Linked DNA regions of Homo sapiens. The protein of the gene in region 5 purifies or fractionates together with the protein of the main gene of each other region. This does not show direct contact. Each region holds a gene or a part of one and is shown on either strand. Other genes may lie near its edges. The genes, in order: DDX49, TIFAB, UPF1, THG1L, NSUN2, METTL3 and ERCC3.

Evidence for each region.
Region 1: the proteins of NSUN2 (region 5) and DDX49 fractionate together in Homo sapiens (co-fractionation; one large-scale study listed by BioGRID). This does not show direct contact.
Region 2: the proteins of NSUN2 (region 5) and TIFAB purify together in Homo sapiens (tandem affinity purification; one large-scale study listed by IntAct). This does not show direct contact.
Region 3: the proteins of NSUN2 (region 5) and UPF1 fractionate together in Homo sapiens (co-fractionation; one large-scale study listed by BioGRID). This does not show direct contact.
Region 4: the proteins of NSUN2 (region 5) and THG1L fractionate together in Homo sapiens (co-fractionation; one large-scale study listed by BioGRID). This does not show direct contact.
Region 6: the proteins of NSUN2 (region 5) and METTL3 purify together in Homo sapiens (affinity purification with mass spectrometry; 2 studies listed by BioGRID and IntAct, with this or other methods). This does not show direct contact.
Region 7: the proteins of NSUN2 (region 5) and ERCC3 purify together in Homo sapiens (affinity purification with mass spectrometry; 2 studies listed by BioGRID and IntAct, with this or other methods). This does not show direct contact.

What each region holds. Positions count from the first base shown.
Region 1 is NC_000019.10:18,925,923-18,929,130, reverse strand, and holds the end of DDX49 (probable ATP-dependent RNA helicase DDX49), read right to left. Parts: intron 2,829-3,208; coding exon 2,754-2,828; intron 1,366-2,753; coding exon 1,277-1,365; intron 1,167-1,276; coding exon 1,095-1,166; intron 1,004-1,094; coding exon 815-1,003; 3' UTR 501-814; downstream 1-500. UniProt on the Homo sapiens protein: ATP-dependent RNA helicase that plays a role in various aspects of RNA metabolism including the regulation of mRNA export and the levels of pre-ribosomal RNA. Regulates the stability and synthesis of pre-ribosomal RNA and thereby regulates cell proliferation.
Region 2 is NC_000005.10:135,449,552-135,453,537, forward strand, and holds the start of TIFAB (TRAF-interacting protein with FHA domain-containing protein B), read right to left. Parts: upstream 2,801-3,986; 5' UTR 2,658-2,800; intron 1,172-2,657; exon of another isoform or gene 949-1,171; intron 399-948; 5' UTR 389-398; coding exon 1-388. UniProt on the Homo sapiens protein: Inhibits TIFA-mediated TRAF6 activation possibly by inducing a conformational change in TIFA.
Region 3 is NC_000019.10:18,859,459-18,862,958, reverse strand, and holds part of UPF1 (regulator of nonsense transcripts 1), read right to left. Parts: intron 2,639-3,500; coding exon 2,521-2,638; intron 2,134-2,520; coding exon 1,977-2,133; intron 950-1,976; coding exon 807-949; intron 1-806. UniProt on the Homo sapiens protein: RNA-dependent helicase required for nonsense-mediated decay (NMD) of aberrant mRNAs containing premature stop codons and modulates the expression level of normal mRNAs.
Region 4 is NC_000005.10:157,734,420-157,737,919, reverse strand, and holds part of THG1L (probable tRNA(His) guanylyltransferase), read right to left. Parts: intron 3,345-3,500; coding exon 3,175-3,344; intron 2,075-3,174; coding exon 1,986-2,074; intron 34-1,985; coding exon 1-33. UniProt on the Homo sapiens protein: Adds a GMP to the 5'-end of tRNA(His) after transcription and RNase P cleavage. This step is essential for proper recognition of the tRNA and for the fidelity of protein synthesis.
Region 5 is NC_000005.10:6,616,045-6,619,544, reverse strand, and holds part of NSUN2 (RNA cytosine C(5)-methyltransferase NSUN2), read left to right. Parts: intron 1-1,520; coding exon 1,521-1,595; intron 1,596-2,687; coding exon 2,688-2,818; intron 2,819-3,500. UniProt on the Homo sapiens protein: RNA cytosine C(5)-methyltransferase that methylates cytosine to 5-methylcytosine (m5C) in various RNAs, such as tRNAs, mRNAs and some long non-coding RNAs (lncRNAs).
Region 6 is NC_000014.9:21,501,341-21,504,840, forward strand, and holds part of METTL3 (N(6)-adenosine-methyltransferase catalytic subunit METTL3), read right to left. Parts: intron 2,542-3,500; coding exon 2,324-2,541; intron 2,238-2,323; coding exon 1,833-2,237; intron 564-1,832; coding exon 388-563; coding exon of another isoform or gene 369-387; exon of another isoform or gene 368-368; intron 1-367. UniProt on the Homo sapiens protein: The METTL3-METTL14 heterodimer forms a N6-methyltransferase complex that methylates adenosine residues at the N(6) position of some RNAs and regulates various processes such as the circadian clock, differentiation of embryonic and hematopoietic stem cells, cortical neurogenesis, response to DNA damage, differentiation of T-cells and primary miRNA processing.
Region 7 is NC_000002.12:127,270,145-127,273,644, forward strand, and holds part of ERCC3 (general transcription and DNA repair factor IIH helicase/translocase subunit XPB), read right to left. Parts: intron 2,818-3,500; coding exon 2,721-2,817; intron 1,310-2,720; coding exon 1,192-1,309; intron 1-1,191. UniProt on the Homo sapiens protein: ATP-dependent 3'-5' DNA helicase/translocase. Binds dsDNA rather than ssDNA, unzipping it in a translocase rather than classical helicase activity. Component of the general transcription and DNA repair factor IIH (TFIIH) core complex.

The DNA.
Region 1 (3,208 bases), on a different chromosome or scaffold from region 5:
GTGCCCCTGAATCCATGTAGCAGTTATAAGCCGCTTGCAGATGAGGGGTGAGGCTTGGAGTCCGAGGGGGGTCCAGGCCACACAGCCAGGAAGCTGGCTCTGGTGTCTCTCTGCCTGTCCCCTTGGGCTTAGCCCACATTGTCTGGCCAAATTTGGACTTTCATGGCCCCTTCACTCTGGCCACAAACCCCAGATGTGGCCAGGTGGGTGGCCAGGGAAGCTTATAGCTGCACCCATTCGGCACAGGACTGACCTCACCAAAGCCTCACAGCTGCCTCTGGAGAGCAGGGCAGTTGCTATGCCCATTCTCCAGATGAGGAAACTGGAAGCCCAGAGAAGGGGCTTCAGGGCCCAAAATCCCATGGCCATTCGAGCAGCTGGTGTCTGCAAAACTTTGGGCCTGCCTGGTGGAAATGGACATGGTGTTCTGGGCAGACACCTGAGAAACAACAGCGGCTGCACCCCACCTCTCCTGTCCCCCTGCTCTTCGAAAGTCAGACTGAGGAAGTCAAAAGACCCGTTTATTAAGCACCTCCTGTATGCGGCACCCCTGGGGGGTGACCTTGGGTTGGGGTCACAACCTCCCGGTCATGTTCTTTCTTCCCCTGCAGCCTGAATCTTGGCCAGGGCTCAGGGAAGGGACCAGCCAGTGGTTTCGGGGCAGAGGAGCAGGGCCCGCACAACACGAGCGCCCACGGGTTCTGCTGTGGGGCACTGGGTAGGCCCCCGGGAAGGGCTGCTGCCCCCAAGGAAGGTTCCTCCGACCCTCAGCTCCATGGACGAGTCAAGGACTGGGCAGATGGCCGTGTGGGGCTCAGACCAGGCCCTGGGAGGGGACTGGGCCTGAGTGGGACCCAGACGGTGTCCTGGGTGGACGCCCCTTGTGGCCAGCCCTGCCAGCCTTCTGTCGCTTCAGCGTCTCCTCCACCTTCTCCTTGAAGCGCCGGTTCTTCTGCTTGATCTTGGCCAGCTCAGCCTTGCGCTTGGCCTCCAGGTCAGGGTCCTGGCACAGGGAGGACCAGGGGATGGCTGAGCTGGCGGCCCCCGCCAGGGAACCTGGCCACCCACCCCCTACCTGCGGGCTCGGCCCTCACCTTCCCCTCCAGGATCAGCTGCTTCCGTTTGTTGATCTCCTTCTTTTCGTCAAAGTGGGCCGCCTCCAGTTTCTGGTGGAGGGAAGTGGGGTAAGGAGATGCTGGTCACGGGGGCCCCACCTGGAAGGGAGCACCCCCGGCCCTGGAGAGCACTTTAGTTCCTGCCCGCCTCTGACACTCACGATCTCACACTCTCTTCGCACCACGTTGACCTGTGTGAGGATCTGTAGCACCTCGGCCTCTTCCACGGAGAACTCCTCCAGCTTCTTCTCTGTGGGGACAGCAAAGCCGGGGGTGGGGGTGGGGAGGAGACGTGACATGGAGAGGGAGTTCAGCCAAGTAGTGAGTTCCCCATGCTGTGGGGTATGCAAGGCCATCTGGGGCCATATCAGGTAAGGGTCAGCTGAGCAAGATCAGGGATTTCTGAGGTAAGGAAGGTATGGACCGCTGTCTTTCAGAGTCTCACGGTCACCCAAGCTGGAGTGCAGTGGCACTATCTCGGCTCACTGCAACATCCGCCTCCCGGGTTCAAGTAATTCTCATGCCTCAGCCTCCCCCCGCCATTTTTTTTCGGTGTTAGCAGCATTATGAGTTTAACCATGAATATTAATTTCTTGCAAACAGTGTCCTTTAAAGTCCAGATATTTCTTTCTTTTTTTTTGAAGACAGGGTCTTACTCTGTCGCCCATGCTGGAGCGTGGTGGCTCAATCAGGTCACTGTAGCCTCCGCTCAAGCAATCTTCCAACCTCAGCCTCTTGAGTAGTTGGAACTACGGGCGTGTGCTGCTAGTTTCTATATTTTTTGGAGAGGCAGGGTTTCTCCACATTGCCCAGGCTGATCTCAAACTCCTGGGCTCAAGTGATCCACCCACCTTGGCCTCCCAAAGTGCTGGGATTACAGGTGTGAGCCACCGTGCCCGGCCTTAAAGTCCAGATGTTTCTCTTTTTTTTTTTTTTTTTTTTTTTGAGACAGAGTCTCACTGTCACCCAGGCTGGAGCGTAATGGCGCGACCTTGGCTCACTGCAACCTTTGCCTCCCGGGTTCAAGTAATTCTCATGCCTCACCCTCCCAAGTAGCTGCAATTACAGGCGTGCGCCACCACACCTGGCTAATTTTTGTATTTTTAGTAGAGACGGGGTTTCACCATGTTGCCCAGGTTGGTCTTGAACTCCTGGGCTCAAGTGATCCGCCCACCTCGGCCTCTCAAAGTGCTAGGATTACAAGTGTGAGCCACTGTGCCTGGCCAAGTCCAGATGTTTCTAAATTTCAGGACAGTCTATGCAGTGATCAGAGATACCTTAGGAAGTGTCTCTGTCTTGGCTGCATATGAAACCATTCCCAGGGGTTTTTAGCAGGCCAGGCCCTGTCAATGGGGCCTCTGACATCTCAGGGACCTTCCATACATCTCAGTCTAAGAAACCCAAGTCCCCTCCTGACTGATGTGGCTTTCAGCTGCTGGCGACAACTATGGGGAGTTTGTTTCAATAAATGGGCAAAAGAACTTCTTTTGGGGGTGCCTAGGGAAGGAAGCCCCAGCCTAAATCTGCTCACGGGAGCAGGCCGGCTGGTGTCTGACGGGAAAATGGGTCTCACCCCGAGGTGCCCACCTCTGCCCACCCCACCCCTCCTTCTCTACCACCCACCCCAACCCCACTCACTGATCTGCTCCTCGATGGCGTGCACCAGGTGGATGTCGTACTGTGTCACCAGCGTGATGGCCTGACCCTGCCGCCCTGTGGGGATGTGCCGGTTATCTGCTATGTGCTGGGCGTCAGGACATGGGGCGAATAAAGGTAGATCCTGACAGCTACACAGCTCAGGGGTCCTGGAGATGCTGAACAAGGGCTTGGGCTTGGGAGGGATCAGCCCAGAGTGTCTGGGCTTGACCCCAAGCAGGACCACTGTGTGGAGGACGGGTCGCTGGGGAGAGGCAGGTCTGCCAGTCTGGCCTTACACAGCAGTTAGTTACTGCCCGATTTCCCTTTTTGGCTTGGCTGCCAGGGAACCCAGTCTAAGTAATGCCAGCCATTAGCCCTGACGGGCCTCAGCCCAAGATCTCTGCTTGCTGTTTTCTGTGACGTTGACTAGGGCCGAAACTGCACTGATGGTGGAC
Region 2 (3,986 bases), about 130 Mb from region 5:
GGAAATAGCAGACAAAAGCCTCCAGGGATGTGCCTTCTTCTACGCGAACCAGCATCTGGATGCCTGAGAAGGAGACCCTGTTGACGGTGCTCAGGGGGACCTGCTCCAGGTACCTCAGCGTCAGCCCATTGACCCACACACAGCCCTTGCGGCTCAGGGCCTTGAGGCAGAAGGCCAGCAGGGCACTGCCTTTCTCCAGGTAGGGCTCCAGGGACAGGTGACGGCGGGAGAGGCGAGGGAGCTGCAGCTGGAGGTGGGCGTCCTGCCCCCGTCCGAGAAGCAGAGGGCTGGTATCATGCTGCAGCCGTGGTGGGACATTGGCAAAGGCAGATGGGCCCAGCGTGGGATGGTACAGGCTCACTCGCAGGACGGTGAGGGGCTTCTCCATGGAAGAAGTCCTGGGAAGTTGGAACATGGACACACAGGCTCAGCTTCAGTCAGAGACCTCTGTGGCTCCCTGAGCCCAGACACACTTGCCCACCTCAGGGGCCCTGTGCCTGTTCATACAATCACTCTGCCCAAGCCAGGATGGAGCCAAGGCTGGAATTGGTGTGGAAGGTCATGAGCTTAGTCTCTCTCATACTCTGAATAGAACATGCCACCCACTCTGTCTGACTTTTGGATTTCTGTAGTATAGATATATCTGTCCTTGTCTATGCAAGGGATAAGGCATGCTGGCTTGCAGGGTGGGGATTTGGTAATCTTTTGGTTATTTGGAGACAACTTGGCCCTGCTTCTTGGAAAGGAAAGGGTAGACAGACTGGCTACATTTTCCTTGTATCTGACAGTCACACAACAAACCCTTGCTGAATCCTCCTTTGAGCCAAGCAGGGAACCAGCTGCTGGGGAGAAGCAGATTCAACAACGAACCGAGCCCTGACTCTTGGGAGCACCCACTGGTGGAGGAGAGAGGTGTTTCTAGCATCAGGATGTGTGGAAGGACACAGAAGGAGGATGCTTAGCCTAGTCCTGGCCACCAGAAAGGCTGCCTAGAAACCCTGGTGAAGAGTAAACAGCTAGCACATTCCGAGTGGTTACTATGGGCACTTGCTGGAAGGCCACTCACAATGGCCAGCTTTGTTCCTGCATGGGTTTGAGGAACACAAACTCTGCTATGTCCACCAGCACCCTGTGGCCCAGGACCTGCCATCATCTTCAACAGGAACCAAGGGTTGAGTGGATTTGAATAACTAATTATACATTCTCTGGGTACCAGGCTTTTGCTCACATTATTTCTCTCCTAAGAATGCATCTTCCATCCCAAACTCTGTGTCCAAATACTGCCCACGGTTCAAGGCCCTGTTCAAGTGTTACCTCTCCTGTGAAGCTCCCTTCCCTGGGGAAGGTGACCTTTCGCTGCCTTCTGACTCCCACAACAGGGGGAATCCCCCAGGACACCTGGCCAACCTTACTCTCCATTCATTCCATCTTTGCATTTCATGCCCAAGTTCTGTGGGCCCTTGTCCTGTCTTCCCTGAGTTCCTCTCTTCCTGCCCCTGAGGCCTCCCAAGGGCTGGGTATGGTCTGGGCTGTGGTTCTTGCTGCCCCATGTTCCACTGCCCCATACAAATAGGGCCTGGCCACCATAAATGTCCAGGGGCACATTTGCCGAGTGGCTAAATGAGAAGCCCACACACACACATGGTGAAATCACCCAGAGAGACCACAAATGGGATCATGTCTCAAAGGCTGTGGGACAGCGAGCCTGTTGCAGGTGGCTTGAACTCAATGTCCCTCCAGGTCTTGAACCTGCTGCCCCTCCTGCCTTTTAGATGCAGTAGGTTAATGGCTGAGACCTTTTAGTCTGATAGTGAGGGCACCCTTTCACTATCAGAGGCCTGAGGGCACCCCCTTTCCCCTAAGGCACAGACACACATATGCCTCTACCCACACCCCATCTGGCCATAGTCTGCCGAAAGCCTTTCTTTTTTTTCTTTTTTTTTTTTTTCTGAGATGGAGTCTCACACTGTCACCCAGGCTGGAGTATAGCGGCATGATCTTGGCTCATGGTAGCCTCCGTCTTCCAGGTTCAAGGGATTCTCCTGCCTCAGCCTCCCCAGTAGCTGGGATTACAGGTGCCCGCCACCATGCCCAGCTAATTTTTGTATTTTCAGTAGAGACGGGGTTTCGCCATGTTGGCCAGGCTGGTCTCGAACTCCTGACTTTAGGTGATCCGCCCGCCCCGACCTTCCAAAGTGCTGGGATTACAGGCGTAAGCCACCACGCCCAGCCAGAAAGCCTTTTCTCGAGGTATGCGTTACAGGCTGAGCCCAGGACAGGTGGGCTGGGCAACCCATGCTGTCAGGCCTGGCTGGAAACTCAAGAGTTCACTCCCAGAAACTAATATCACGGCACAGAGACCCTGAAAGAATCCCTCAGGAAGAAAGATTCACAGTTGCTGTGTGGCCTTACTCTCTGCTCCAACCAGAGCTAACAGAAATCTCCCACTAAAGAGGAGCCCATCCACGACAGGCTGTCCCGTGTCTTTTGGATCCCAGGTGTTCTGGGGAAACAGAAACCCAGCCCTACAAATCCAGCCTTTGGGACGGGGCAGGAGGAAGACACTCCAGAATGTGTGTCTCAGGGGAGCCCTCCTCCCAGCCCCACCAGGCCCTCCCTTCTCCCCATGGGTTCAAGCCCCTCTGGCTTCAACTTACCTTATTGCCGGGGCACATCTGGCTCTAGTCCTGCAGCTGTGAGCTCTTGAGAGGGAGTAGGCTGGTTTGGGTAGGGCTGGGAGGGCTCCTATGGCTGCAGTTCAGGAACGTGGCAGAACATACTTCAGTTTTGTTGCATTCTTCCTTTTTCCCTTTAGGAAAGAAAATAGAAGTGTAATTTTTCATTGCAGAAGTGCAATTCCACTGCTGAGAGTTTGAGAAACCCCAGCGTGGGGCCCCTTCTGAGACAGATGGCCTGCCTTCCTGGGTTTCAGTTCTGCCAGCCTCTCCTACCCCACCCCCAGGGACCTTAGGACCTGCACCCAGGGTATCTGCAAAGTTCCTCTCCACCTGCCAGTAGGATGGGGTCAAAGCAGCCCAGGCATGTTAGAAAAGAAGAGCTTTTTGGGACAGATGGCTACGGGACAGGAGAGTCCCCTGAGTGTGGGAGAATGAGGAGAGCGTTCTGGCTGGATAGAGGTTGGCCAAGGAAACTGTAGGCAACATGGCACTTCCCTGAGGGTCTCAGGAGAGGGCAGGGCCTGGGGACGGGGAGGATGGAGAGGGCAGTAAATGGCCACTCATAGAACATGATCTCTCCTGCAGAACAGTGAGAAGGTGGTCTCTCATGCCCACTCCCCATCGCCCGAGCTCTGCCTATTTGCATGCAGTTTGGAAGGGGTGAAGATGGTCGCTTGTCCAGCACTGCGGGCTCTGGCTGCCCTGGAATGTGAAGGTGCTAACCCTTCACGTAGCCCAGCATTTCATAGTCCACCAGTGTGTTCAAGTCACCTGCGTTATCTCCTAGGAGTTTTATAGTTCTATACGTACATTTTAATTTTTCTGACATGTGTAAGGTTTGTGTCTAGATTTTTTTTTTTTTTGGCTTATAGGTGTTCAGTTGTCTCAGCACCATTTTCCGAAATGACCATGTTTTTTTTCCTTCAGTGTTTTCTCTTTACTCCTTTGTCAAAGATTGGTTGACTGTATTCATGTGGGTTTATTTCTGGGCTCTCTACTTTGTATCATTGATCTATTTGTCTATTTTTTCACCAATACCTTACTGTCTTGATTGCTGCAGCTCTGTAGTAAGTCTTGAAGTTGGGTACTGCCAGTCCTTCAATTCTGTTCTTCTCTTTCAATTTTGTCTTGGCTCTTTTGAGTTGTCTGTCTATATAAATGTTAGAATCAGTTTGTTAATAGCCACAAAATAACTCGCTGGGATTTTGACGAGACTTCATCAAATCTATCAATAAAGGAGGGAAGAACTGACATCCTGACAGTATTGAATCTTCCTATTCATGGACATGGGATATCTCTCTATTTGTT
Region 3 (3,500 bases), on a different chromosome or scaffold from region 5:
GCGCATATGAGCCGGAAGGAGCACCAGGCTCTCTCCCTGTGCTGGGTGGAGCCACAGGCCAGGTCCCCCCAACTTCCAGCTGGTGAATGGGTCCTTGCTGTCTAGTGTTTTTTTTTTTCCTTTGGAGACAGAGTTTTGCTCTTGTTGCCCAGTGGCTGGAGTGTAATGGCGCAATCTCGGCTCACCACAACCTCCTCCTCCCAGGTACAAGCGATTCTCCTGTTTCAGCCTCCCAAGTAGCTCAGATTACAGGCATGTGCCACCACGCCCGGCTCATTTTTTTGTATTTAGTAGAGAGGAGGTTTCACCATGTTAGGCTGGTCGAGAACACCTGACCTCAGGTGATCCACCTGCCTCGGCCTCCCAAAGTGCTGGGATTACATGTGTGAGACACCATGCCTGGCCTGATGTCTAGTTTTATGTGGGATGACAGAATGGACACCTTGTTCTCGGGGTCCCTTCTGCTATCATCAGTTCACAAAAGTTGTATTTTAGAACCAAAAATAGTGGACAGGACCAAAACTTACAGCCTCTCAGATTAAACAACTTGACAGACACACACAAGATTTATTTTGAATCAGACCAGAAGGGCCTGGAAAAATACGTCCTGCTGGGCTGAGGCACAGGGGCCACAGCAAACCCCCAGGACACGGAAACAAAGATCTCTCCAGTGAGACATCGTTTCTCAACTGCTGCTCAGAGTCCTCTGACCTCTGGCCCTGGCAACCCCCAACCCTAGCCCCAAATTCCCTGGGAAGTGAGGACCGATGAGCGGCTGGGCAGCATGCAGCAGGCAGCCTCCCTACCTTGCTCTGGTCAGGGCCACGTTCAGACGCCTGGGGTCATTTAAAAAGCCAATGCCTTGGTGCTCGTTGGCCCGCACACAGGACAGGATGATGAAGTCCTTCTCGCGTCCCTGAAAGGCGTCCACACTGGCGATCTCCACCTCCTGGAAGGGAGCTTTGTGGTCACTATCAGCCAGCAGGCTGCCTTCCCAGTCCCCCCAAAATGCAGGAAACACACCAAGACCCACCCTCAAATCCCACCCGGGAGCTTGGGGCCTGGCGCCTGCTCACCGCACCTAGGGGCTGTCCTGGCTCTGCTGCCATTTCGTTTTGTTTTCTTTTTTTAGAGACAGGATCTTGCTCTGTCACCCAGGCTAGAGTACAGTGGTACAATCTCAGCTCGCTGCAGCCTTGACCTCCCAGGCTCAGCTGATCCCACCTCAGTCTCCTGAGTAGCTGGGACCATAGACACATGCCACCATACCCAGTTATTATTTTTTTTTGGTGGAGGCAGGGTCTCCCTACGTTGCCCAGGTTGGTCTGGAACTCCTAGCCTCAAGCGACTTCCCTGCCTCAGCCTCCCAAAGTGCTGGGACTCCAGGTGTGGGCCATGACACCTAGCCTGTTCTCTTTTAGCCACGGAGATTTGTTTCTCAGCACTAAGAGCACACGTGCTCATCCCAGAGAACCTGAGCCGTGCTCAAAAACAGAACAGAAACCACTGCCATGTGGCCACTCAGACTCAGCACTTGGGCTCATTTCCTCATGGAGGCAGAGCTGTGCCTCCTCCCCACACACCCGCAGTGGGTGTTTCATCCGGGTGTCAATAAAGGTGTGAACACCACGGTCTCCACAGCACAACATCCAGTGTGTGGCAGGCACAGACCACTGCCGTTCCACCTTGGACTTGTTTCAACCATCCCGAGAAAACACCTTGATGTGCCAATCTCAGCCCATGTTTCTGATCCCTGTGATGTATTTCTCAAAGTCTCTGTCCTGATCATGTGGAATTTCGCAGGGTCTGTGGGGATGTGCTGTCTGTGCCCTCCCCAGAGGGTGGGCCAGCTGGTGCTTCCTGGGCCATTCTGAGCTCCAGCCAGGACGGGCCCCTCTTGGGGGGTAACTTAAAGGTCAAGGGTCAATACCCTTGCATGGCCCAGGAGACCAAGTGTGCCCGAGGGCGCAGCGCACCTGGTAGAGCTTGGTGTGCAGGGAGCCGCTGAACTGCATGTACTGCACCAGGTAGGAGCGCTGGCCCTCGTAGGGCGTGATGATGCCAATCTGGTCCGGCTTGGCGCCTGCCTTCAGCAACTTCGTGGTGATCTTCTCCACGTTCGCAGCCTCGGTCCTAAGAAACCCAGGCTGTCAGTGCTGGGCTCCACCTGTGGGATCCCGAGCCCTGAGGCTGGAGGCCGTGAGGGGTGCAGACACAACACCCTGCGGGAAGGCAGCTGCCATCACTGGCGTTTGCACAGCTGAGCTTCCCCAGCCTTCACCAGGGGAGTCTCGAGGGGCAGAAACGGCTGCCATGTGGGATTAGCAAGTATCTGCCCAATAAAAAACAAGTACAATGGAAAAGGAGGCAGAAACAACACGGTTTAGAGTCTAAACAGGCTAAACAGGAAATGAAGGCAAAAAAAGTTTCAGTCCCATGTTAAAAATAAGTAGAATGGGTCAACAACCTCTCAAGCTGTCCCCAAGACCTGCAGACGCCGGTGGGCCTGTCCCTGCTCACCTGTTCAGGTAGGAGGTGCCCGAGCTGGCAATCTCCTCTTGGCCCTGGGTCACGTAGAAGAACATCGGTTTATCGGGTTGGGGCCACTGGAAGTCAAATCCCTTCTTCACACGATCCGCTGTGAGGGGAGGGAAAGAAGTAACACTTCAAAAGCCCTAGCCCGCCTCAAATGAGTTCAGACACAGGGCAATGTAGTTGCTACGCTACAGTGCTGCAGGTCCTGGGGCAGGAGACTTCGATCTGTGAGGCCCTGGTGAGGTCACCTGAGCCGGTCCCCTGGCCAGAGATGCCCAGGATTGGGCAAGGCTGAGGAGAGGCCACCGAGAGCACCATGGCCAGCACAGAGCTGGCTCAGCCCCTGAACAGGGAACAGGGTCTCAGCCAGGGCTTTCTTGCAGCCTGGATCTCTGCCAACCCCAGGATACAGGATATTCTCCTGCTTCCTTCCAGAAGCTTGCCTTAAAGGCGCCACAGCCCCTACAACTGACTTGTGTGTGACACTGTTGAGCCAACAGTGTCCCCCTGCCCTGCAGCCTTGTCCATTCCTGCTGAGGGCCTGTTGACCGGTGGCTCTGCCTCTGGGCTCCCTCCTGGGCCGGGGCCCAACACTGCAGCTTGGGGGCCGGGGCGTCCTGCCATGTGAGCAGCCACTTTCTTCGGGCTCTTCATGCTCATCTTGGCTTTTCTGGGCCCTGTTGCGTTTCCTTAAAACTGTAAAACCAGTTTCTCAATTCACAGGTGCCCTCCTCACTCTACTGGGAGCTTCCATCAGTGGAGAAAACCGGTGTTTTTGCACAGCACCAGCCTGACATGGACAGAGGAAGCCAGACACGCCAGGACACATCATATGATCCCACGTCGAGCTGAAAATGAGGCCAAGTGGATCACTGCTGTTACAGCGAGCACAGGGGCCGCCGGATGAGCTCAGAAGTCCCTCAGCCCAGGGGCTGCTGTGGATGCGCACCCCTGGACAGTGGCCA
Region 4 (3,500 bases), about 150 Mb from region 5:
CAAAATCTCATTCTTGTCTGCTGCAAGAGTTCCCTGAGAAAATAAAAATAGATATTAAAAGCTCTGCATGTCTTCTTTCTCCCCTAGTGCTACTATCCATTCGACCCACAACCTAAATTTCCACAATCAAGAAGTGGAAGGATTTTATCAAACATCTTATAGTTATTAGTAAATTTTCATCTTAAGGGCAATTATGATCTTACTTAGATAAAATTCTCTCCTATACCAAACACTGGCTTCACAAGTCAAGACTGAAAGGGAGTGGGGAGAATTAATACTAACTGAATACATATTATGTATTTGGTCCAGTAAAACTTAGAAAGGTTATATAAATTCCCCAAGGTTAAAAGGTTGTCCTTATTCTTCTACGAAGAATTGAAATCTGAACTTGACTCTTCCAAACCTGGATATACCTACCAGTATGCCTTTTTTTTTTTTAGACAAAGTCTCACTCTGTTGCCCAGGTTGGAGTGCAGTGGTGCAATCTCAGCTCACTGCAACTGCCACCTCCCAGGTTCAAGCGATTCTCATGCCTCAGCCTCCTGAGTCGCTGGGATTACAGGTGTGTGCCAGCACACCCAGCTAATTTTTGTAGAGAAGCGGTCTCACCATGTTGGCCAGGCTGGTCTTGAACTCCTGACGTCAGGTGATCCACCTACCTTGGCCTCCTCAGAGTGCTGGGATTACATGCGTGAACCACCACACCAGGCCCCAGTTTTCCTATTATTGCTATATAAAAATCTCTATCATTACTATTATTAAAAATGACAACCATTTATTGAGCAAACATAATGTACCAGGCATTGTATTAGTAACTGTTACAGCTGGGCACAGTGGCATGCACCTGTAATCCCAGCTACTTGGGAGGCTGAGGTGGGCGGACTGCTGGAGCCCAGGAGTTCAAGACCAGCCTGGGGAAAATAGCAAGAACCCATCTCAAAAAATAAATAAATAGATAAAATAAAATACAAATAAAAGATCTGTTACAACACATTACCTCACTTCACAGTTAGTCATCCTACAAGTAGCACTGTTATAACAAAAACCAGTATTTATTAAGCACTTACAATGTGCTTCATACGATTCTGTGTTTTACGTGCATCATGCCATTTAATTCTCACCATAAACCTATGAGGTAGAAACTACTATTTTCTACATTTTACCTATAAAGAACTGAGGCAGAAAGGATAAAATTACACAGAAGCATGATGTGAGTAGTTATTATGACATTTATGAAAGTAACAAACTCAGCACGAACTCTTCCTATACACAGAGGTCATAAACCCAAGAAACTACAGGTGCCCAGCAGGGAAAATGGCAATGAGGGAAGAGGCGTGGTGGGACTGACAAAAATTCAGTGCTGGCCAGGTGTGGTGGCTCACTGGCTCACGCCTGTAATCCCAGCACTCTGGGAGGCCCAGGCAGGCAGATCACTTCAGGTCAGGAGTTCAAGACCAGCCTGGCCAACGGGGTGAAACCCTGTCTCTACTAAAAATACAAAAATTAGCTGGGTGTGGTGGCATGCACCTGTAATCCCAGCTACTTGGGAGGCTGAGGCACGAGAATCGCTTGAGCACAGGAGGTGGAGGTTGCAATCAGCTGAGATCACACCACTGTACTGCAGCCTGGGCAACAGAGTGAAACTGTGTCTCAAAAAAAAAAAAAAAAGTCAGTGCTGAAGACGGCAGTCATACACAGTCATACACGGCTTCAGGCAAGTGTTAGCACGTGGGAATGCAGAGCCAGTGCCGTCAATTCCATTTTCCACTAAGAACACAAAGGCTCAGGGAGAAGCAGTAATTCATCCAGGATTACAGACCAAGCAGGCAGCAGAGCTGCTCCTATTATGATTTTTATATCCTTTCAAAACAAAGCTGTACAGGGATCTTAAAAGAAAGAAATGTAAATTTAACAAAAAAAAAGTTATGGGAGAGCCTACAGCGAACTGTCCCCAGTTAAGTATTAATGTAGTAAGATCTTTATACCTGTAATCTCCCTTGGGCTTGTACTGGTGTTAGTCCAGATTGTTGTATAAGTGCCCAGAAAACTGTATTATAAAGATTATTGATGTGACCTGTGAGGAGAACAAAATAGTAATGTTTATATACATAAAATCTTTATTGAATATTCATTCTTCAAGGAATACTAGAGCCCTGACCCTCTCCTCTTTCATAGTAAAGAGATCTCAGAGACATTCAGTGACTTGACCGAAGTCCTACACACGGAACATGGAGGGAAGGAGCAGTAGGGAAAAAACTTCATCCCTAACAACAGTTTTATTTGGTCATTTCAGTTACACATTATACAAATCTGTTAACTTGTGTGTTAATCCTAGGAATACTTTAGAAGTTATTTGATTTATATTATTTCAATCTCTTTTCCAGTTCTTCTGGAAAATTCAAACTAGAACAAGCAAGTAAAAGCCTCACAAACATCATCACAGTCACATAAGGCAAGGGTCACAATTCAAATACCCACTGAGGCCAGCATGAACATAAATGTGTAAAGCAGTGGGTGACCCCAGAGGAACAACAGGGAATGGCAGAGACTATGGCACACTGGCATTTGTGTGTGTGTGTGTGTGTAAAGGTAGCTGCCACTGAACAGGCTTTGTCTAGTACTAAGTAAGAATGCAGATCCAGTATTGCCACATCTGATTTTTTTAAAAAATAGAGATAAGGCGGCTGGGCGTGGTGGCTCACGCCTATAATCCCAGCACTTTGGGAGGCCAAGGCGGGTGGATCACCTGAGGTCAGGAGTTCAAGACCAGCCTGACCAACATGGAGAAACCCCATTTCTACTAAAAAATACAGAATCAGCCGGGCGTGGTGGCACATGCCTGTAATCCCAGCTACTCGGGAGGCTGAGGCAGAAGAATCCCATGAACCCAGGAGGTGGAGGTTGCAGTGAGCCAAGATGACACCACTGCATTCCAGCCTGGGCAACAAGAGCGAAACTCTGTCTTAAAAAAAAAAAAAAATAGAGATAAGGAGTTTTTACGTAAAATTTAATTTTTCAAATACTTTTAACTAATTGAAAAAATATTTAAATACTGCATTCTGTACAACGTATATGTTGAAACAAAGTATATGTGAGCCAATCCTGTATCAGATCAACACCTGTAAGACATGGAATTGGTGGTTTAACTACATGTGTTTATTTGGTGCCACTCACAATCTGCTTGTCGCCAGCTGAGGTAGTCCTTTAAAGTCTGGTTGCTGGGATACACCACGACTCTTCCGTCAAAGCCTGGGGGATACAGAAGGGGCTGGTCCTCAAAGTAATCCCGCCAATAAAACACATAGCTGGAGGCAAACTGGGAGGCCACGTGAGTCATGAACTTACTTGAAAATGTAACGCACATTGGGTGGAGTAAGAAAAAGAAAAATACACGGAATTAGTTCAACACCATGATAAGACCTGTGGGTACCACAGAGAGTACACAAACTGCCCAGAAAGCCAGGAGATAAAATGCATTTGGCTAAGAAACACTATTTTAA
Region 5 (3,500 bases):
CATGGTATAACTGAGTAACAAGTTTTTTTAAAAGGAAAGAAACAAAACTAAAGACATCATCTGTTCCGTTCCCATAGGAGGTGCACGGATGATGATCCCAGGTGATAATGACTTCTGAATGACATAAGTTTGTCAAGACCAGAATTCAAAAGCTGCCACAAAACTTGTTAGCACAGAATGCAAGCTTTAGATACGATACCACATTATGGAAGAATGCCATTTTGTTTCAGTAAGTGGCAGAGTTACTGCTCATGGCAAAACTCAGTATGAAACTTGCAGCTGGTGGCTCTGAATATAGCTGAGTGTTAAAATAATCTGGAAAAAGCCCTCTTTAAAGTAAAATTTAAAATACATCATGAACTAAAGTTTTTTTTTCCTCTAGGTTGCAATTTTTCAGTATTCCTTGGGGTCTCATGTTTTCCTACCCCTGTTTTTTGATCAGAAAGATAACTCGTTCCTTGTATCATATTCTGAGATCTGAGAACGCAGTGACCTTATGAGCAAGAGGTTGCAAGCTGGGGAAATTTCTGAAATTGTGGTGGGATTTCTACCATGCAAACAACTAGTGTACAGCCAGGAATGCCATTGCAAAGTGGGGATTACATCTCATGGGATAATTCCATCCTGCAGACCTAGTCCCTCGTGTACACGCGGCTAGACCATCAAGGAAAATCAGCATTTACAGAGAAAGCCAACAAAAACAGGCGTTACCTTCTGGGAAAACAGGGCAGATAAAATTAGACACAGAAAGTAACAAATCCAGTCTTTACTATAAAATATACATGGAAAGAGCTTCCATTAACAAAAACATGAAAATAACTTCCATTAAATAAAAGTAGAAAGTCAGAAATTTAACGGTGATTGTAAGAAAAATTTAGCTATTAGTAAGAAAAATTTAGCTATTATATTAGCTTAATTGAAATTACTATGGAAAATTTATTAGTCATTATTCATATAATTCTGATTAAAATGCCATTGTTGATTAACTGAGTTTTTCAATAGTATTTTAGGTTCTGAAAAACATGAAAATAACTTCCATTAAATAAAAGTAGAAAGTCAGAAATGTTTACCTGTGATTGTAGGAAAAATTTAGCTAATATATTAGCTTAACTGTGGAAAATTTCTTATTAGTCATTATTCATGTAATTCTGATTAAAGTGTCATTGTTGATTAACTGAGATTTTCAATAGTATTTTAGGTTCTGTGTCCTAGGTCTGCAAATTAGTCTTGCTAGTGTTTTTTCCAAATGGAAGCACATTAATATCTCCTTAGTGAATGGAGTTTACTGTTCAAATCCATTATTTTCTGCTTGAAAATTGAAGTATAATTTAAAACTATAATACATTAGAAAATCCCTAAAACAAAAGCTGAAAGCAGATTGCAGTTGGTGAAAATGGAGATTGTTTCCTAACTGATATTTGTAACACTTGTTTTGTAACTTAGCTTGTATGTGACATATCTGTTAAAGTGCAGTCATCCACCTGTAGGGAGCTTTGCACTCATAAATATCTTTTTTCCAGTGGAGACGGCACTATGAGAAAAAACATTGATGTTTGGAAAAAGTGGACCACCTTAAATAGCTTGCAGCTACATGGGTAAGTAAAACTTCATCACTGCTAACACTGTGTGACAAGTAGATCAGCAGAGATTTATTGTTATGCAAGTGAGCATCCGATCTTTAATTAGAGAGCTGTAAGCATCAGAGGATGGTCAATGGCCACCTTCAACTGTTTTATCAGAAGTTATTTGAAAACCTTTCAAGAGCAATAACTGCAAATTGTATACATTTCAGATAACACGTTTATTAAAAATGCCTTCTATAAAAATTTCTTGCAACACTTCAGATATGTATTTTTCCATGAAATGACCGTTTACCTCTTGATGTATGCATTACTAATCTTTTCTCTCTGTTTTTGTTCTTTTGTATCATCGTTTTGCTAAGAGACATTTTGATCTCTTAGAAATATTTTTCGGTTGGCTTTTTATGATGGGGAACTATTCATTAAAGAACAATTGGAAAATTCTTAAAGAGAAATCTCATAACACGATGATCACGTCTGTTAATGTTTGGTGTGTTGTATTGTTTTTCTGTTTACAGGGATTTTTTAAGTACTTTTTCCAAATACTTTTGATCATGCTGTCTGTAGAGCAGTGTATTCTTTTTTTCATTTGACATGACAAATGCCATGGTCTTGCATGCAGGACTGTACTGTGCCTGAGCCACAGAATACTAATTAGCATCCACCACAACCAACTATAGCAGGAGGCCTCGTCTCCATAAAATACTGTCTACTGTTTTGTGACACAGAGACAAGAGTTAGGACTGGAATGTATGATACCAATTTTTCATAGAAAAACCACATATTTAGGAAGTATGGAGGTTTTTTAAATAGTGAAATTTCATCTAATACATTGAATTCTGTTGTTACTGAACTTTATACTCTGCTGGTTGACATATTGGGAAAGGTTAACAGAGCAGTAAGAATATTTATATAATACATTTTTTTTATTAACATGAAACACTTTATATAAGTTTACTCTAACTTCATTTAGATCCCTGGAAGGTTTTTTTTAAGTATAATTGTGTTATAAAAGCTTGTAATGAATATGTGACATAAGGAGGTGCTTCTAATATGTGCACTTCATGGATACATTTGGCCTTGCAGTCATCTGATATCTCCCCTTAGCTTACAGCTGCGGATTGCAACACGCGGGGCTGAACAGCTGGCTGAAGGTGGAAGGATGGTGTATTCCACGTGTTCACTAAACCCTATTGAGGATGAAGCAGTCATAGCATCTTTACTGGAAAAAAGTGAAGGTAAGCACGCTTGATGGATCTTTTATTAACAGCATAGGGGGCTTTTCATATGTGTATGGTACAATACACATAACGTGAGGTTTACCATCTTAATCATTTTTGAGCCTGCAGTTCAGTCCCGTTAGGTATATTCCCATTGTTAATCACCACCACCATCCATCTCCAGAAATCTTCACCTTGCAAAACTGAAACTCTGAACTCCTTTAAACAGTAGCTCCCATCTCTCTCTTCCCTGCCCCTCACACCACCGTTCTATTTTTTGTCTGTATGACTTTGACTACTCTAGACCTCACAGAAGCGGAATCATACTGTATTTGTCTTTTCGTGACTGGCTTATTTAACTTACTGCAGCGTCCTTGAGGCTCACTTGTGTTGTTGTCTGTGTCAAAATTGCATTGCTTATTAAGGCTGAACACTATTCTGTTGTTTATATAAACCGCATTTTGTTTACCCATCCATCTGTTGATGGACATCTGGGTTTCTTCCACTTTTTGGCTGTTGTGAGCCATGCTGCTGTGAGCATGGTATACAAATACCTCTCCAAGATCCTGGTTACGATTCTTTGGATATACACTCAGAAGTTGAATGGCTGGATCATATGATCATATAGTAATTCTGTGTTTAATTTTGGGGGGACCCCACCATGCTTTTTTTCACAGTGGCTGCGTCATTTTGTATTTCT
Region 6 (3,500 bases), on a different chromosome or scaffold from region 5:
TTCCTGTTTTACCACTGGAAGGCAAGCAGTGCAGGAGACTTGGGTAGAACAGAATAAAACACTGACCTAAGAGTTTAGGTTCCTTTTCTCCTAAGATTATCCTCCTTTCAGAGTACTTTAACTTTCACTGTGGCTCAGAGACAGACATACTTTGCTATTCTAAGAGGGAGGGAGCTTTTAAAAAAAAAATCTCAGTTATTTGGGAGTACAGCCTGTATTCTTCCCACACAATGCACTTCTGAAAGTACACCTTCAGGGTCTGGAGGACTTACACAAACCATAAACTAAATAAGATTACAGACAGAACCCCAATGACTGGAAGGAATATGCTGAAAAGGAATGGCTGCTTCTGACAAACCCATCCCACCTCATTCCCTTCCAAGAGACCTGAAGTGCAGCTTGCGACAGGGTCGATCAGCATCACTGGCTTTCATGCACTCCTCCTTGGTTCCATAGTCACAGAATTCTTGCACTTGGGCCCGACCTCGAGAGCGAAATTTTTCAACAATGGATTGTTCCTTGGCTGTTGTAGTATTTAATAGCTCTAGGATCTCCTGACTGACCTGTGACAGAAGTAGCCTTGGACTTAAAATGTCTTATAGATCAAATTGGCTCTTAGACCAACTCCGCAAATTCTTTTTGACATTAATGTCTTCTAAGAGATAAATCAACTTTTTTTTTTTTTTTTTTTTTAAGAGATGGGATCTTGCTGTCACCCAGGCCAGAGTGTAGTTGTGTAATCATAACTCACTGTTTCTCCCACTGAACTCCCAGGCTCAAGTGATCCTCCCAGCTCAGCCTTCAATTGTAGCTGGGAATATAGGTGCGTGACACCATGCCAGCTAATGTTTTAATTACTTTACTTTCTATAGGGATAGGGTCTATGTTGCCCAGGCCGGTCTTGAACTCCTCGCCTCAGGTGATCCTCGCGCCTTGGCCTCCCAAAGTGTTGAGATTACAGGAATGAGCCATTGTGCCTAGACCTAAATTAGCTAACTTAATATTGGAAAATTGGAGCCTTCAGATAAGAGATTTGTTAGGGGTTCAGTCCTTCCTCACAAATATGCATTTGGGATGAAATTAAAATGGAAGAGGCCTGGTTCCTACCGCTAAGCATTATGTTAACATCCCCTCCCCAGGAAGGCATTCCTTCTACAAAAAACATATTTACTGGGTGCTGAACTAAAAAGTATAGTGCTAAACACTTTACTTTTTAGCTCAGAGTCTATTCAATTCTATAAGGCAGGATACGCTGGTATTATCTTCATGTTACAGATGAGAAGACTAAGGCTCAAGAGAAGTTAATTAACTTGTTCAAACTCACGCACTAGAAGTACCAAACAGATAAGAACTCATGTCAGGCCAATGCTTATACTCAGAACCAATTCACATTATTTAGTCAATTTCCATAATTGGTCTAGTATTCCTCTCCATTCATCTCCCTATATTTCTATATATTTGGATTCCTCTTCTCTTGATCCAATTCTTTCAGATTCAGTGACAGATTATCTAAATAAGAATTTGTCGACATTGGCATTGTTGACACTTTGGGACAGACAACTGTTTGTTGTGGGGGTTTGTCCCACTATGCACTGTAGGATGTTTGACAACATCCCTGGCCTCTACCCCCACTAGATGCCAATAGCACTCCCCCATGTGTGACAATAAAAATGTCTCCGGACATTACCAGATCCCCTGGGAGTTGGGCAGTAGGGAATCATCCCCAGTTGAGAACCACTGCTGTAAACAGTTCCTTGCCCTAGGGGTAAATCCCTGTCAAACAAAGCTATAATTAAGAGCATATTGTGAGAGTATTTTCACATGACCCCTACCTTCTTGCTCTGTTGTTCCTTAGTGGACTGTTGGTTCAGAAGGCTCTCTATCTCCAGATCAACATCTGAGGCAGCATGTTTCCTTGATTTCTTGGCTGGCTCCTTTGCTGGTTCCGATGCTGAAGAGTTCAGACCAGAGACTAACGAACTGGCAAAGGCAGCTACTGTAGTCGAGTCCTGTTCTGCACGCCGCTTCTGCCCTGTGACAGTCCCTGCTACCTCCCCAGGGCCCTTCTTTTCTGCCACAGCACCCATCATGGCAGAGAGCTTGGAATGGTCAGCATAGGTTACAAGAGTAGGATGTGCATCATCTTGTAGGAGACCTCGCTTTACCTCAATCAACTCCTGAGCTGCAAACTTCTGCAGGAGGCTTTCTACCCCATCTTGAGTGGCAGGAGCATCTGGCTAGAGAACGAGGGGAGGTATGGGCAATAAGACACTGACCGTGAACTGAAAATAAGTGGTAAATCCTAACTCTGTCAGGTCATTACCGTGGAGATGGCAAGACAGATGGACACAGCATCAGTGGGCAATGTTAAGGCCAGATCAGAGAGGTGGTGTAGCAACTTCTTCTCTAACTCAGGATCTGTAGCTAATTCAGGAACTGCTGAAGCTGTGCTGGGCTTAGGGCCACCAGAGGTGGGTGCAGTAGGCACTGGGCTGTCACTACGGAAGGTTGGAGACAATGCTGCCTCTGGATTCCGTAGATCTAAGAATGAAGAGAAGTGAAAATGAAAAAAGGCAACCACTGTTGGTCTATATATTTCTGAGAAGTCAAATTCTCTAGCATTCCCATACACAGATCTTTCATTTTGTGCAGGAAATTCTGTGACCAACTTTAGCACTAGATTACCTATCCTCAATCATACTAAAACATTCACTGCTTTGTCAAGATAATACTGGATTTTCTATCTACCTTTTCTCTATTGAGTGAGTAATCTTTTCCTAATTCCCTATCCTTGCTGTGATACAAAGAAAGTAAATTAGCATGATAGATTTAAATATCCCTACCACCTTTCTATCAACCTACATTTTAATAAAGGACAGGAATATACTCAACAACCTAGGCTGGGATCCAATATTCTTTTTGAGGCATGTAGTGTGAATTTTAATGAATTCAGGCCACTGATCAACAAAGTGTACAAAATGACAATGTTGGGGGCCAACAGTGTTACCTATAACACTCACAAACACAAAAATCTTAATACTTTGCTGAAGCCTTGGTTACCAAATGATATTTCCTGACTATATTATTATCATCTATTACTTCACAAGCTGGGTTGCCATCATAACCTTAATAACGATTTGAGAAACTAAAATTAGGACAAAATGTTATCTTTGAGAAAGCCTAATATCTGTGGTTAATTAAAATATAGATGAAATATTAAACTCCTAAGAACTGAACTGAAATTGCTAAATAAGTAGGCCATTAGTTTACATTTAGAAATATTTTGTTTACTTAAATATTTCCATTCTGGTAAGGCACTGGGGCTCACGCCTGTAATCCCAGCACTCTGGGAGGCCAAGGTGGGTGGATCACTTGAGGTGAGGAGTTCGAGACCAGCCTGGCCAACATGGTGAAACCCCATCTCTACTAAAATACAAAAAAAAAAAAAATTTAGCTGGGGGTGGTGATGCAAGGTTATAATCCCAGCTACTGGGGAGGCT
Region 7 (3,500 bases), on a different chromosome or scaffold from region 5:
AGCCTCCCAAGTAGCTGGAACCACAGGTACACACCACCACGCCCAGCTAGTTTTATTTTTTGTAGAGATGGGGTCTCACTACATTGCCCAAGATGGTCTCAAACTCCTGGGCTCAAGCTATCCTCCTGCCTTGGCCTCCCAAAGTGCTGGGATTATAGGTGTAAGCCACTGTGCCCAGCCAGCCGACTACATTTTATGACTTATAAGCTGAATCCTCACAGCAGTCTTGGCAAGACAGGATTGTCACCCCCACTTTGGATGGGAAAACCAAGTCTCAGAGGAGAAAATAATTTGCCAAAGGTGACACAGCTGGCTTGGTGCCTGAGTCCATGCTATTTCTAGTCCATGCTATCTGCCTCATCTCCATTTTAAATACAAGCTACTAGACGCTTCTTAAACACATCTGAACGCAGTACAGTTCCAACAGATGCCCACTAATCTTGTCATTTTCAAACATTCTAGCAGTCCAGATGCCTCCTTGAATAAGCAGACTCCTTGAGGATAGGGCTTGTGTCCTTGTCTCAGGATGTGCCCTGGTCCCAGTAAGACAGACACGGCCATCTCTTAGCAAGAGTGTCAGTCCCTGCCATGTCCACAATGGCAGTCTGGGCCCTTTTACCGCAGTAAGCAAGCACAGGGGTGCCACGCCTCCTCAGAAAAAGCCTTTGCAATGAGGATTCTCACCTCCTCACTCACTGAGCTTGCCCTGCCCCTGCTGCAAGCTGCCACCAGGGCGGCACTCTGCACAGGTTATGAATGACGTGCCCATTGTGTGTCTGCCCAAGCTGCTCCTACCAAACCTTTCCCTGCCTCCTGATCAAGTTCCAGAAGCAGCTTCCAGCTCCTCCACTTACACTGGTGGCCCAGCTCTGTTTTCTCCCTTCCATGTCTACCCCATAAGCACTGCCTTGCCCTGGCTCCCTCTCACCATCTACCAACACAGCTGCACAGTGTACAGAGCACATCTGTGTGGATTCCGTGACACTGTCATGGAAAACACCTGCATATTCACCCCCAAGGTATGAGAAATAATGATGGGCCATAAGGATCTAGGTCTTTGCTTTGGGATTCTCTCCCTCCAGAGTCTATTTAGCCCCAGGGCACATGGCAGCTCTCACCCCTATCGTCTTCCTAACTAAAGTGGTTTAAGAGGAGTGACCTCCTGCAACAGAAGATGAAAGGCCACTTTACCTTTTTTAGCTCGAAGCACCCGCCCTAGCCTTTGGGCTTCCTGACGCCTGGAGCCACCATGGGATGAGATCTGAATGAGGACATTTGCTTCCGGCAGATCAAACGAAGTGTCACCTACCTACAGAAACAAGTTGGAAGGTTTTTATATATGAGGAAAAAAAAAAAGTCAACTGATCCAGAATTTAAATAAGTTCTGTAGATAATTTTGAAACATAATCACTCTTTTCTCCTCTTTATACCAGGGTCTATCTGATGCAGGCAGAGAGAGGTGAAGCAATAAACCTCAGAAAGGCATCTCTGGGTCTCCAGGACCTTGTGTGAGTTCTGCTAAGAGTCATCCTGAAGAATTAATACCAGGCATCAGTGACATTCAGTGCTGGGTGCCAGGAGCCCAGAGATGAGAGGGCCCTTGAACAGAGACTGACTTTGAGTCATTCATTTTTTTGGCTACAGAAATATGTCTCCACAAAACCATCCATACTCTTACCTGTTGGCCACTGACACCAGCAGCACACGTGGGATGTGACCTGGGAGGAACAACTGCCCCATATGGAATTCTGACTGTAGGTGGATTCCTCAGCTCTGGGGCTCCAAACATCGAGGTTCCCAGCCACAGACATGAAGGTTTGGTGCTTATAAGCGCCCAGCCACAATCACATAAAATCTCATTTCTTTTTTTTTTTTTTTTTTTTTTTTTTTTGAGACGGAGTCTCGCTCTTGTTGCCTAGGCTGGAGTGCAACGGCACAATCTCAGCTCCACTGCAACCTCCACCTCCCGGGTTCAAGTGACTGAACCCTGCTGCCTCAGCCTCCTGAGTAGTTGGGATTACAGGCGTCTGCCACCACACCCAGCTAATTTTTGTATTTTTAGTAGAGACAGGGTTTCTCCATGTTGGCCAGGCTGGTCTCGAACTCCTGACCTCCGGTGATCCACCCGCCTCAGCCTCCCAAAGTGCTGGGATTACAGATGTGAGCCACCGCGCCCGGTTGTAAAATCTCATTTCTTTTGGGCTTTGGGTCTGTCTTAATCTGAATGACTATTCTAAACTGTGGGGCTACAGCTTCTGATTGCAGAGTAAACCATCCCTGAGCTGGGCCTGCGGAAGTCTGTGCTGACATCCACCACCCATCATCAAGGGACACCAGGAACCAGGACAAAGGCTGCCGCGACACACAGGATCTCCAACTTGTAAAGAGAACTTCATCTAAATGCCTACTTTTGCCAGAGTAGGAAATGAACTTTTTTTCCTTTTATAAATAAGGAAATACAACTTAAAACTTCTACATCCCCAAAAGAACTGGAAAAACCTCAAATAGCCTTTATAGATTATCCATGATGCATGCAAATCCTCAGTCTGCTCCTTCCACTAACCCCAGGCAGTGCCCCCTATCCCTGGACATGTCGGAAATGAAAACATGCAGGAGAAGTTCCTTCAGCAGACATGAATTCACTGTCCAGGAATCATAGTGTACCCCCCAGGTCCCCAGAGTGCTAGGGGCCTCACCTCCACCCCATATGCCACACAAACCTTGGATATGAAGATGGTGTTAATTTTGGGGTTGTGCTTGAAATTCTGGAGAATTTGCATCCTTTCCCCCTGAGACGTAGGTCCGTAGATATAGGGTCTAGAGAAGAATGAAGCTGTGTTAGACCACAGAATAATGCCTCAGTTATCTTGAAAACACATCAGAGGGAAAAAGGAGCTCAGGCTAGCTCTTCTCAAGTAGAAAGCCCTCGTCATGTAGGAATATCGTTACACCCAAAAAAATGACTGGCTACAGATGCACCTCCCAGCCTTCCCCACTGATTCTAGGTTTAGGCCCACCATTCTCTTCGGGATTCCCTCCTTTCCATTTTTCGTTTTCTTTTTGGACTATGCTTTTTCCTGCTTCAACATCTCTTACTCTCAGCACAGAGTCTATACAAGGAGCATCTCCACATTTCATGAAGCCCAAAGAGAGGTGCAAAGAAACCACTGCTATTTCCAAAAAAAGGCTGGAAGCAACTGTTTGCCAAGACACAGGCATGCTCCAAGAGATGAGCAGAAAGGAGAAAAGTGCCCTTCAGCCATTATTGTGCTGATTTCCCATAACACTAAGTTTTAAAAACTTCTCTTTAATTTCTAGCTCCCTGCCAGGCGCGGTGGTTCACGCCTGTAATCCCAGCACTTTGGGATGCCGAGGCGGGTGGATCACCTGAGGTTGGGAATTCACGACCAGCCTGACCAACATGAAGAAACCCCGTCTCTACCAAAAATACAAAATTAGCCGAGTGTGGTGGCGCATGTGTGTAATCCCAGCTACTCGGG